2 separate regions of the Homo sapiens genome follow, and region 2 is linked to region 1. Evidence: fine-mapped expression QTL. A gene starts in region 1. The other region holds a variant in brackets. All regions are shown on one strand. Distances are between the middles of the regions.

Region 1 (5,379 bases):
CTACAATATTAGCACTCTCTTTTTTACCAATAGAAATCTGATATTTTCACATCACATTAAAGTTGCTGCAGGCATTTCAAAATATAATTTATAGTCATCACTACTTAGAAATTATATAATTAGACCTGCTGCCAGATTTTATTTAATGCATAAAGTGCATATATATCACACATTTGTTTTAATATTTTAAAAACTTAACAAAATTAGTTTCCTTTATATTACTACGTATTCTATTTTATATATTTAAGAACATTTTTCTGAGACTGAATCTATAAGGTGGACTGCCAACAAGGTCCACTGGGTAAAAGAGGTTAAGAACCTTTTTTGTACTTATTAATTACTTCTAGTAATATAATCTAAACTCTTCACCATGGAATTCAAGGCTCCTCATAATCTGTTCACACCCACTTTATCATCTTCATCTCTGTCCCACCTCTACTCTCCATACTATGCTCTAGCCATACTAGACAACAATAACTCGTTCTTATCTGGGTCTGATAGACAGGTTTTTGGATTAACCCTAGTTAATAGATAGCAGCCATACACTGTCTTGGTCTTTACCTCATACAGCTTCTCTGCCTGCCAAGTGAATTCTTTGTTTAAAGGCCTGCTTTCCCTAATACGGTAATTTTCCATCCTAATTGAGCTGTATTTTAAATATCTTTATATCTCATTACTAACTTAAATGATAAATAATAGAAAAAGATTCTAAATTGGCAAGGCACTGTATGTAGTAATCTCTATGAGAGTGGATGTTGGTCTTTGCATCTCATAAATTGGCTTAGCTCTGGATGTTGGTCTCTGCATCTCATAAATTGGCTTAGCTCTGATCATTTTGGGGACAGAAGTGGGGATGGCCTTTGAGCTTTAAGGCTGGAGACAACAGCTGACCAATCCTGGACGGAAGGGAACGGGAGAGCAAAGAGACAAGTAACTAATTTGGACCTGATAAACACTGAGGAATGAACAGTGCTGAAGAGAAAGGCAAGAGTGGCTCCTTCTCCCATTTCCCAGACCAGTTATTCCAAACATAACGCCGCTCAAGTTTCTCATTCCATCTCCAAGCCTCTCTGTAGTTAAATGACCTCCATCTTTTTTTTCTGGGGGCGGGGACGGAGTCTCGCTCTGTCACCCAGGCTGGAGTGCAGTGGCGCGATCTTGGCTCACTGCAAGCTCCGCCTTCCGGGTTCATGCCATTCTCCTGCCTTGGCCTCCCGAGTAGCTGGGACTACAGGCGCCTGCTACCACGCCCGGCTAATTTTTTGTATATTTAGTAGAGACGAGGTTTCACCATGTTGGCCTGGATGGTCTCGATCTCTTGACCTCGTGATCCACCCGCCTCGGCCTCCCAAAGTGCTGGGATTACAGGCGTGAGCCACCGCGCCCGGCTAAATGACCTCCATCTTAATGTTACAGAGCCAACTGTCTCAACTTCCTTCTCTCTAGTTTAGTGAGTCTCAATCTTTAGCATTAGAGTCACCTGTGGAGCTTTAAAACAGTAATGACACCTGGCACAACCCAGAATTTAATTGGTCTAGAGTGGGGCAACAGTATTGGTTTTATTTAACAAAAAGTTTCCCAGGTGATTCAAATGCACATACAAGGTTGCGTTCCACTAGTGATCTTGATCTTATAAATTAGCCTCCCTCACCCTCGAAGAGGCCACTTCTCGGTTTCATGGTACGCTTTTGAGTCTTCTACCTAAACAGAAAACATTCCTGAGGGCCATATTCTCGTTCCTCATTTCTCTAACTTTATAACGATGCTTCTTTAAAGGGAAGTCTACACTAGTACGGTTTCCATCAGGTTTATTTTACTTCTTTTTTCTCTTTCAGACCACCACTGTCACATGCTCTTGCGCCCGTTATTCTGCTTTTACCTCCTTTCGTATTTCTTTGACCAGGTACTGGATTACTAGTCTTTTAACACAGTCCTCTAAAAGTGACCCAAAAGTCACCCTGGAAAGGGCTTCCTCACGTTATCCTCCTACACAACCTGGGACCCCTCTTCTGTGCGCAGACAGCATCCCGTGCATTTTTCTCTATTGTCACTTTATTGTACTACCACTGCGGATTCTCTCACGGTCTCCTATACAAAAGCACTTCAAAAAGCTGACACCACTTAATTCGCCTCTGACATTCTGGAACCCAAGGCATGGAAACCACTCAGTGAAAAGTCTGAGAAATGAATGGAAACGGAGGTCGGGGCGGGGACAATGGAGGGGGCAGTGGGTGGAGAGAGCGTGCGTGTTTGAAAAGGGGCGGGGGCTATGACCGGCGGCGCTGAGAATCCAGGTCCAGAATCGGGAGGGAGCACGGATACGCCAGAATCTGAGTGGGTGGGAGAGCGATCCACTGCCGAGACAAACCGAAGTGGGGAGGAGGCTTCTTACCTGCCTCGGGCCTCACCACCCCAACCAGCCTTCAGGCACCTCTGTGTTGGCCGGAAAGCGACAGCTACGGTCGCAAACTCAGAGGTTTCGTCCCCAACCTTGCGACATCCCTTTCCAGTACAGGGAGAATCTAAAGCTGAGTTCCCTGCTCTGCCGTAAGGTGAAGAAGAAAAAATTTGGGCGGGGCCGCCTGGGGCGTAGGAAAGGGGGCGTGTCTGCGCAAGCGCACGCTGTACTCTCCAGTGGCGTCACGTGCGGGGGCGGGACAGGGCGGGGCCGACCCGTGCTGGCAGTAGGGGGCGTGGGAGGTAAGTGCGCGCGCGCCTGCTCGCCTGCAGCCGGGGAGTCGCGCGGGGCGGGGCCGCGTGCGCGGGGTCGGGGGCGCGCGACCGAAGCGGATAAGGGACGCGGCGGCGGTTGGCTGTGTCTGTTGAGAGAGTACAGGACAGCCCGGACTGCGAGAGGCGGCGGCGGAGGCAGTAGTTGCACCGGCAGAGGCGGCCGCTGGCAGCGGTTGAGGCGGCGGTCCAACGCGTGCTCTCTGGGCGGGGTGCGGCGGGGGATGTGCCTGCTCAGGCCGGGCGGAGTCTCTCTGACAGGGCGGGGGATGCGCCGCGGCCGCTCGCCCGGACCCTGAGGCTGCTGGGCCCACCCTCCCGGAACCGTCCGACCCTCGGTGGCCTCGGCCTCTTCTGCCATCTCCGGTCCTACCCTGGGGCGGAGGGTGGAAGGCAGCTTCCGTCGAAGAGGAGGGGGCTGCGGTGGCCACCGCGGCGGAGCCCGAGGTAAGACCCGCCCAAGCGCCCAGCGGCCCTGCAGCCCGTCCTGGCCCACGTCTCAGCCTCGCTATTTGGCTCCGGTCGGGCCGCCCCGCCCCGTCCCAGCGGAGACGCCCCGCGAGCGGGTCTGCGCCGAGCCTCCCAAACACCAGATCACGGCCCCGGATCCCCAGTAGACCCCACCCCCTGTATCTTCCATTGGCCGGGCACCATTCCGGCCCTCCAGCCTCCCCGGAGATTCTGTCACGGTCCCCCCAACCCAGCAGACCCCATTAGTACCCCTCAGAGTCCCTTAGGACTCTTAATGGAGCTTCTAGACTACGTTACATCCTCCCTTGGGCTGACGTGATTACAGTTCTCAGGCAAAGTCTCGACCGCCCCCTAACCCATTGCGTCCCCCATGTGCCCCTCGCCCTACTCTTCTTAGTAGAACCCCTCCCAGCTCGCTCATCACCAAGCCGACTAGCACTAACCCTAGCCATCACGGCTTTCAGATAGCCGCTGTCATGGTGTTCTTACTCCCGGTAGATGTGGTGTCAGTCCCTCTAGACACCGTCACAGACTTTGGCTTCTCTCCCACCACCGACTGTAGCCTCTCTCAACAGACCTCTCCTCAAGCAAACCTTGTTATCTTTCTCCTTAGTCGCGATCCTTTCTTTGGTTGAAAGGGCTTTGCCATGAAATCCTGAGGGAATATTTGCTTAGCCTAATGTATTCCCTCCATTGTGGCTTAAGGGGACCGACCGAGACCCATGTTTGGAGGGGTTGGGCTGAAAAAAGTGGGAGGCAGAGTGAAGTTATGGAAGCATGAGGCCAGTTGTGTGTGTGCCATTATAAGGTCACAGAGCCTGCACCTCGTCTTGTCTGTTCTGTGTAGAACGTGTGAGGTTGTCCAGCACTGATGTTTTAGGGACCTCTGTAAGGATTAAATCACGTTGCACTAGTGGATATAACTATGTCGTCTTGTAGTATTACTTCACCTCCTTGTCGATTGCTGCAGATACTAGAACTGTTTCTTATTTTTATTTTTAAAGGATACTAGGGGACTTTTTTTGGATTCACTGTTTTTTGGATTTGCTAGAAAAATAAGATTTGTAGCATTCCTTAATCCCTGAATGCTTCGATGTCGGTTTAATAATAAACTTCTGTTGCCTGGTGCTGCTGTCTTGCTTCTCCAAGAAGCAAGTACAGAAATCATGCAGTGTTCACTGAGGTCATTACCAACAACAGCCTTCTCAATAGCAGTAAAATGTTGAATAAAATGTTTGTAGAAGTTGAGCTCCTGAGTTGTCAAGAAAGAAATGTAATGTTGCATCAAATGATCAGTACGTAATTTTAATATTGGTATAAAGATGAAATATAAAGAGGTCTTTGTAGTCATACACACACACACAGTAAAAAATGTTAAAGTAACAGGAGAAAATCACATTAAAATTATAGATAATAACTAGACGTAAAAGCCAAAAGTTTCGGAAGAGTAATGTAGTAAAAATTTCTGTTCCGCCTTCACTCTCCAGCCACCCATTTTTCCTCTTTAGAGGCAACCACTATTTCCAGCTTCATGTGTATCCTTTCTGTGATATTTCCAATATATAAACCTACACATTTATATTTTTAAGACACTGTACACAAATGGTTGCATACTTTACATTCTATACATAGCCTGTTTTTTTTACTTAATACTACATCCTAGAGGTCATTTCTTAACAATACATATGGAAGTGCCTCATTTACTGGCTGGATAGTATTCCATTTTTGTGGACTGGAGGTTATTTTTGGTGTTTTGCTTTTACCAACAATGTTACATGCTTTTCTTTTAAATGTGTCTGATGTTATATGTATGTTTAAATAATTTTGTGAGTTGAAAAAAATTCCTGATGATTCTTTTATGTTGAACCTACAGAAAGGATGTAACTAAATTTCTCATTGAACCTCTGAGCTTCCACAGTGTGACTAGCTGTGATGATGATTATAATATTTATTAAATTATTGAAGGATTTTAAAGCAGGGGACTGGAATGATCAGATTTGCATTTTAAAAAAGTCATTCTGGCTGCAGTGAATTGAAGAGTAGAATAAGACTAAAGGCCAGGAATATTAGGGTTATCCAGGCAAATGGTGAGACTGGATCTGAACTTGGATATTCGGAGTTGAGTTGGTGATTTTATTGTATTTGGGGTTGGGGAGAAGTTGCATACAGGATAAAATC
Region 2 (5,341 bases), 300 kb after region 1:
TCTGGAATGACTCCCACATTTGATTGGGTATTGAAAGGGTAACAGCAAAATGATGATTGTGGAGATGGATCTATTAGGTCTCATGTTGGTCCCCTGGTTGAAACTATTTTCAAAAAAGCCCCAACAATGGGCCTGTCACCTTGCTAGTCATCCATTCTTAATGCCTATTTATCAGCCCTCTGAGGTCATATAAAAGTTGCACCTTTTGAACCAAGTATTTGTATTTACTATGGGAAAGGTGTGGACTACAGATTCGTATTATATTATTTTAATGGATTTTAAGTAATTTATAAGTATGCTGAGTGTAAATTTTTTTTAAAAACTGTATTATAAAAGGACATATCCTGTGAAATATAACATTTTACTGTTTAATAGAATAATTCTATAAGAAGAATGATTTATCTCACCCACGGAACTGATTACATTCCGGATGCAATCAATAGGCACTTTGTAATTTCCTTTTTGTTTTTTTTTCTTTGCTGGGGGGTTGAGGGGTAACAAGATACCATCTGTATAAAGTGCAGTTTGTGTCACTCAAAATATGCACTGTATGGCTACACAAAAGCAGCTTGATGAACAAATCACCCCATGGCTCATTAAAGAACAAAGCTTCCAGAAGCAGCAATATGTGTGGTTTGTTTTCCAACCATCCTGGCTCCCACTCCAACTATTCCAACCCAACTCCAAGAAACAGCAGTGACTTCTTAGTTACACTGATGTGTTTTCAGGAAAGGACTCAACCCAAAGTTGACAAAGCACAGAGGTGGTAGTCACTGGAACTCAACTGAATTCAAGTGAAGGTGTGATTCAAGGTGTCGTTTTTTCTGTAGTGGATGCAGGCTGCTGGCTGTCAAGACTTCATTTAATCGGTTTAAGGCTAGAAGGGAGGAAAAGCAGTAAATCTGCATTTAGGATCCTCCCCTAAATTGGCCACTTGAAGAAGTTGCTAATAGAGGTTGCCAATAGAGGGCCCAAGGATTCTCACTGAAATTCAAAGCAACACATTGCAATAGGAACAGAAATTTTAACTCAGTTTGTCATTTTTGTTCTGCTACCAACTTTACTGCATGTCTGGGAAAGGCATTCGCTCTCTCTGAATGTTAGTTTTCTTATCTGGAAGTCAGTTCTGTTTCCCAAACTCCCAGCTTTGGAGAACTCCTACTGACTCGCAGGTTTTAGTATAAAAGGTAGTTGTCCTAGGAAGTTTGCTCTGACCCTGTGAATTGGGTTAGAGGTCTGTGTTCTCAACAGCTCTCAGTTTTCACAGCGTCAAACACTTACCTGTCTTGCTGACTCTTAGATCCCAGCACCTAATAAAAGGTGCTGGCTAGGCAGATATTGGATGAGAGGATTGACTAGGATCAGTGGTTCCAAAATGCCAAATCAGGTCTGAGGTTACATGGGGAAAAAAACATGTCCCTAATGCCAAATGTATTCAATTTTTAAAATTCTGGGGTCATCCTTCTCACTTGTTTTTACGTTACATTTACATTTTCATTTTTGCATTAAATTTATATTACATTGAAATATGAAGTGTTAATTGTTTAAAATTCCCTTAGTTGCCCAAATAAAACCTAGAAATACCATTTTTATTTATTTTTATTTTTTTGAGATGGAGTCTCACTCTGTCACCCAGGCTGGAGTGCAGTGGCACAATCTCGGCTCACCGCAACTCCCACCTCCCAGGTTCAAGTGATTCTCCTGCCTCAGCCTCCCAAGTAGCTGGGACTACAGGTGCCTGCCACCATGCCTGGCTAATTTTTGTATTTTTAGTAGAGACGGTGTTTCACCATGTTGGCCAGGCTAGTCTCAAACTCCTGACCTCAGGTGATCTGCCTGCCTCGGCCTCCCAAAGTGCTGGGATTGCAGGTGTGAGCCACCACACCCAGCCGAAATACATTCTTAAAACTTGCCCCTGAGATGATTACTGAGAAGACAACTATTGTGATTATGAAGACCTGAGAACAGAAAGGTATATAAGGAGAGGCAAGTTATAAAGTGACCACAGCTTTGGTTTGGTTTGTTTTTTAAATTGCTTTTGCCCCTAGAATGGGTGGCAGTACAGTGTCTTAGAGCCAGAGATATAAACATGAAAGTAGATAAAGTACATGTAATATCTGACTGTTGAATCTTGTAGGTATCTCAGACTCACAGTCAAGGAGTGTGTCACTTCCAGGTAGTGCCCACAGGCATTGTCCTAGGTGCTTAGGGTACATTAGTGAACAAAACAAAGATCTCTGCCCTGTGGAGCCTGCATTCTAGTGGGGAACACCAGTGATGTCCACCAGATAGAGACTAGTCATCCATGATACCTGGGTTTGACTATGAGGTTGCGCTTCTTGGCATCTTTGAGTCTTTCCCTGCCCTTCCTACCTTGAAATATCCCCTTGTGGGTAGAGGAGTGTCTCGTGAATCTAAAAACTAGCTTTATTTGAAAAGAAAGGCCCAGATAGTCCCACAGGGACTACCTCTGTGGTGCTTCATAGCCAAAGATATTTCTGGCATTGAGGGGGAAAAAAAAAAGCTTTCAAATTATCTACCCTCCTAATAAGGACCCTAAATGCAATGGAAAAGCCATTACTCATCAGAATTTCTGTAGAGCCAATCTACAACAAGAAGTTGAATAATGGCTGCCATCATCCTAGGTGGTTTACAAACAGGAGTTTGTATTCTTGTCTGTAAGACATGCTGAGAGCTGTACCAGGTTAGGAGAACAGAGGCCACTTTGTATTCCAGGTGAGATGGACTTAATACAGAAATTAGGATCTAACAAAGGTCAGAGATATTCCCACAGGTCAAGAAAGCCAACGCAAATCTCAGCTACAAGTTCCAGAGGAGTTCTCAAGAGCTTGCCTGGAAGCTAGTGCAATTCTAGCCAGGAGGCTGCTATGAAATCTATTTTCCCACGACAGGGCTGCAGTGTCTCCAAAGAAAAATGGCTTCTCTTTTTCCTAATGCCAAATTTAATCAGTTTGGCATTAGGGGGGAAAAAATCTCCTGTGAGTGTCTTTCATTAGCAAATCCTAGGGGAAAGGGTTTCTGGGAAATGTAGTTCCTTCCTGGCATCTCTGCAGTGAAGAAAAGCCCTTAGAAGTGGGGGAGGGGTGGTATTGATGCC[C/A]GATTGACAGCAGACAATCCAGCTTATGTACTTCCTCTAATTCTCCAAGACTTCTTGGAGAGCCCTCAAATCTCCTTCCCAATGTAGATGTGCTGGGCTCACACATCCCAGATGCTAGCCTGTGAACTTCAGCAGGCTACCTTTGCAGTCTTACCATGTCCTCCAAAGCCAAACTGTAAGATACATACGCAGGGCTGGTCATGTCATATTTCAACCATGTGTCTTACTAAGGTGGCTTTGCTCAGGGCTTAGCTCATATGGATAAAACTTTTGATAGGGAATTGGACTGTATAATGGCATTATAGACATTAGTTGACCGATTAACTGAGGCCACTCTGATACTTTGAAAAGTTGGAGAGAATCTGAAGTAGCCTAGGGGCTGAAGTAAGAAGGGCTTCAGCTGGGCAGCATTTGCCATACTCTTTCCTCTCTGGCACCAGCCCTAGCGGTTCTGAGTTCCTGAGTAGATAGGGCATTTCTGTCAGCTAAGGGAATTCAAACACAAGCCAAAGGACAGGGAACCCCTAGGATTTCTCAGCCTTCTCACATGACCCTTTCTGTCTTGATTTCAAACACTTATCCTTTGAAGGCAGAAAATGCAACAGAATTGTTCAGTCTTTCATTCCAAAAGTGAAGGGGAAGTTGGGAAAGAGGCGGTGCCAAAGTTAAGCAGCATTAGGTAGAGTCACACCAAGGTTTGAGTCCTCTCTAAGCATCAGTTTTTTCACTTATAAATGGAGAAAATTGGCTCTTCCCTCAGAGTTAATCTGCGGATTAAATGGCAATTTAAAAAGTGCCCGGCTCACTGCCTGCTATTAATATATACATTGCCTGATCTATGTTAACATGTTAAAATATTATTTTCACAGTCATCTGGGTCTATCTTCAAAAAGGATTAGGTTCACACCTGTAATCCCAGCACTTTGGGAGGCCAAGGTGGGTGGATCACCTGAGGTCGGGAGCTCTAGACCAGCCTGGCCAACATGGAGAAACCCCGTCTCTACTGAAAATACAAAATTAGCTGGGTATGGTGGTGCATACCTGTAATCTCAGCTACTCGGGAGGCCGAGGCAGGAGAATCACTTATACCCGGGAGGCGGAGGTTGTCGTGAGCCAAGATTGCGCCATTGCACTCCAACCTGTGCAACAAGAGCAAAACTCAGTCTCAAAAAAAGAAAAAAGAGAAAAAGAAAATGATGAAGTTTGTCTGAGCTGTATCTTTCCATAAGGACCTGAGAAGTGATGAAGAGTCCCTTTCACAAAACGTACCTGTAGCTGCCTTATGTTGAGTTGGAAGGTGTTCTTTACTTAGGAAGGAGATGAGGCAGGAGATAGGAGATAAAGGTTGAGAGATGCTGCGGATGATGGGATGCCATCTGGAGAGAAGCTGGGTGGTTGAATTCTATGGGAGATTTTCCACTGGGCTTGAATTCATTGCGCCTGGTCTCTGACTTGGAGTGGAACCCAGATGGAACTCAAAGACCTTGCGCTCATTCCTTCAGTGTCCCCAAAGGGAGAGCCTTGACCACACTCATTTTTCTGGTTTTTTTTGTTTTTTTTTTTTACTTTTTTATTGAGGTCTAACAAAATAAAGTGCACAGCTCAATGAATTATTACGTATGAATACATTTGTGAAACCACTGCCCAGATCAAAATCAACATTTCTGGTACACCAGAGGGCTCCCATGAGCCCCCTCTGTATCAATCCCCCACCACCCAGAAGTAACCACTATTCCAACTTCTATTATTGTCAATTAGTCTTGCCTGTTCCTGAACTCTGCATAAATGGAACTTCGGCCTGGCTTCTTTCATTCAACTTTTATGTCTGTGAAGTTTACCTGTGTTGCCACATGTATCCGTAATTCATTCTTTTTAAATTATTTTTCATTATATGAATATACCACAACTTGTTAATTCATCCTACCATCAATATACAGTTTGGGGCTATTATGAATAAAGCTGCTATGAATATTCTTACAATATCTTTCGGTGGGCATTTCTGCTGGGTACACACACCTACGAGGAATTGCTGGGGCAAAGAGTAGGCAAATGTTTCGTTTCAGTAGATTGTTTTCCAGAGTGCTTGGAAACATTTCACCTCCACCCCCACTAGTTTTTGAACATATCACAAAGGAGCTTCTCCATTGGAGTATTCCCTATGGTCTTGCGGAAAAAGAGGAGCTCGATGCGTTCCGCAGTGATAAACCTCAAAGACGGGAGGAG

Evidence for each region. PIP is the estimated chance that this variant, and not a neighbour inherited with it, causes the effect.
Region 2: its variant is fine-mapped to the expression of MYO9A in whole blood (INTERVAL, PIP 0.99).

The regions. Positions count from the first base shown.
Region 1 is chr15:72,115,478-72,120,856 of GRCh38, reverse strand. It overlaps MYO9A (myosin IXA), which reads left to right and starts at 2,707. Exons shown (of 42, transcript NM_006901.4): 1 at 2,707-3,177. SENP8 (SUMO peptidase family member, NEDD8 specific) reads right to left here and starts at 2,454. Exons shown (of 2, transcript NM_145204.4): 1 at 2,393-2,454. RefSeq lists a silencer at 2,586-3,355 and an enhancer at 3,556-3,765.
Region 2 is chr15:71,817,571-71,822,911 of GRCh38, reverse strand. NR2E3 (nuclear receptor subfamily 2 group E member 3) reads right to left here. Exons shown (of 8, transcript NM_014249.4): 8 at 4,659-5,341. The coding sequence ends at 5,228. It overlaps MYO9A (myosin IXA), which reads left to right. Exons shown (of 42, transcript NM_006901.4): 42 at 1-621. Among named protein-coding and RNA genes, the nearest start is that of NR2E3, 9.7 kb to the right of the region's middle. The variant C/A (reference allele first, on the strand shown) is at 3,119.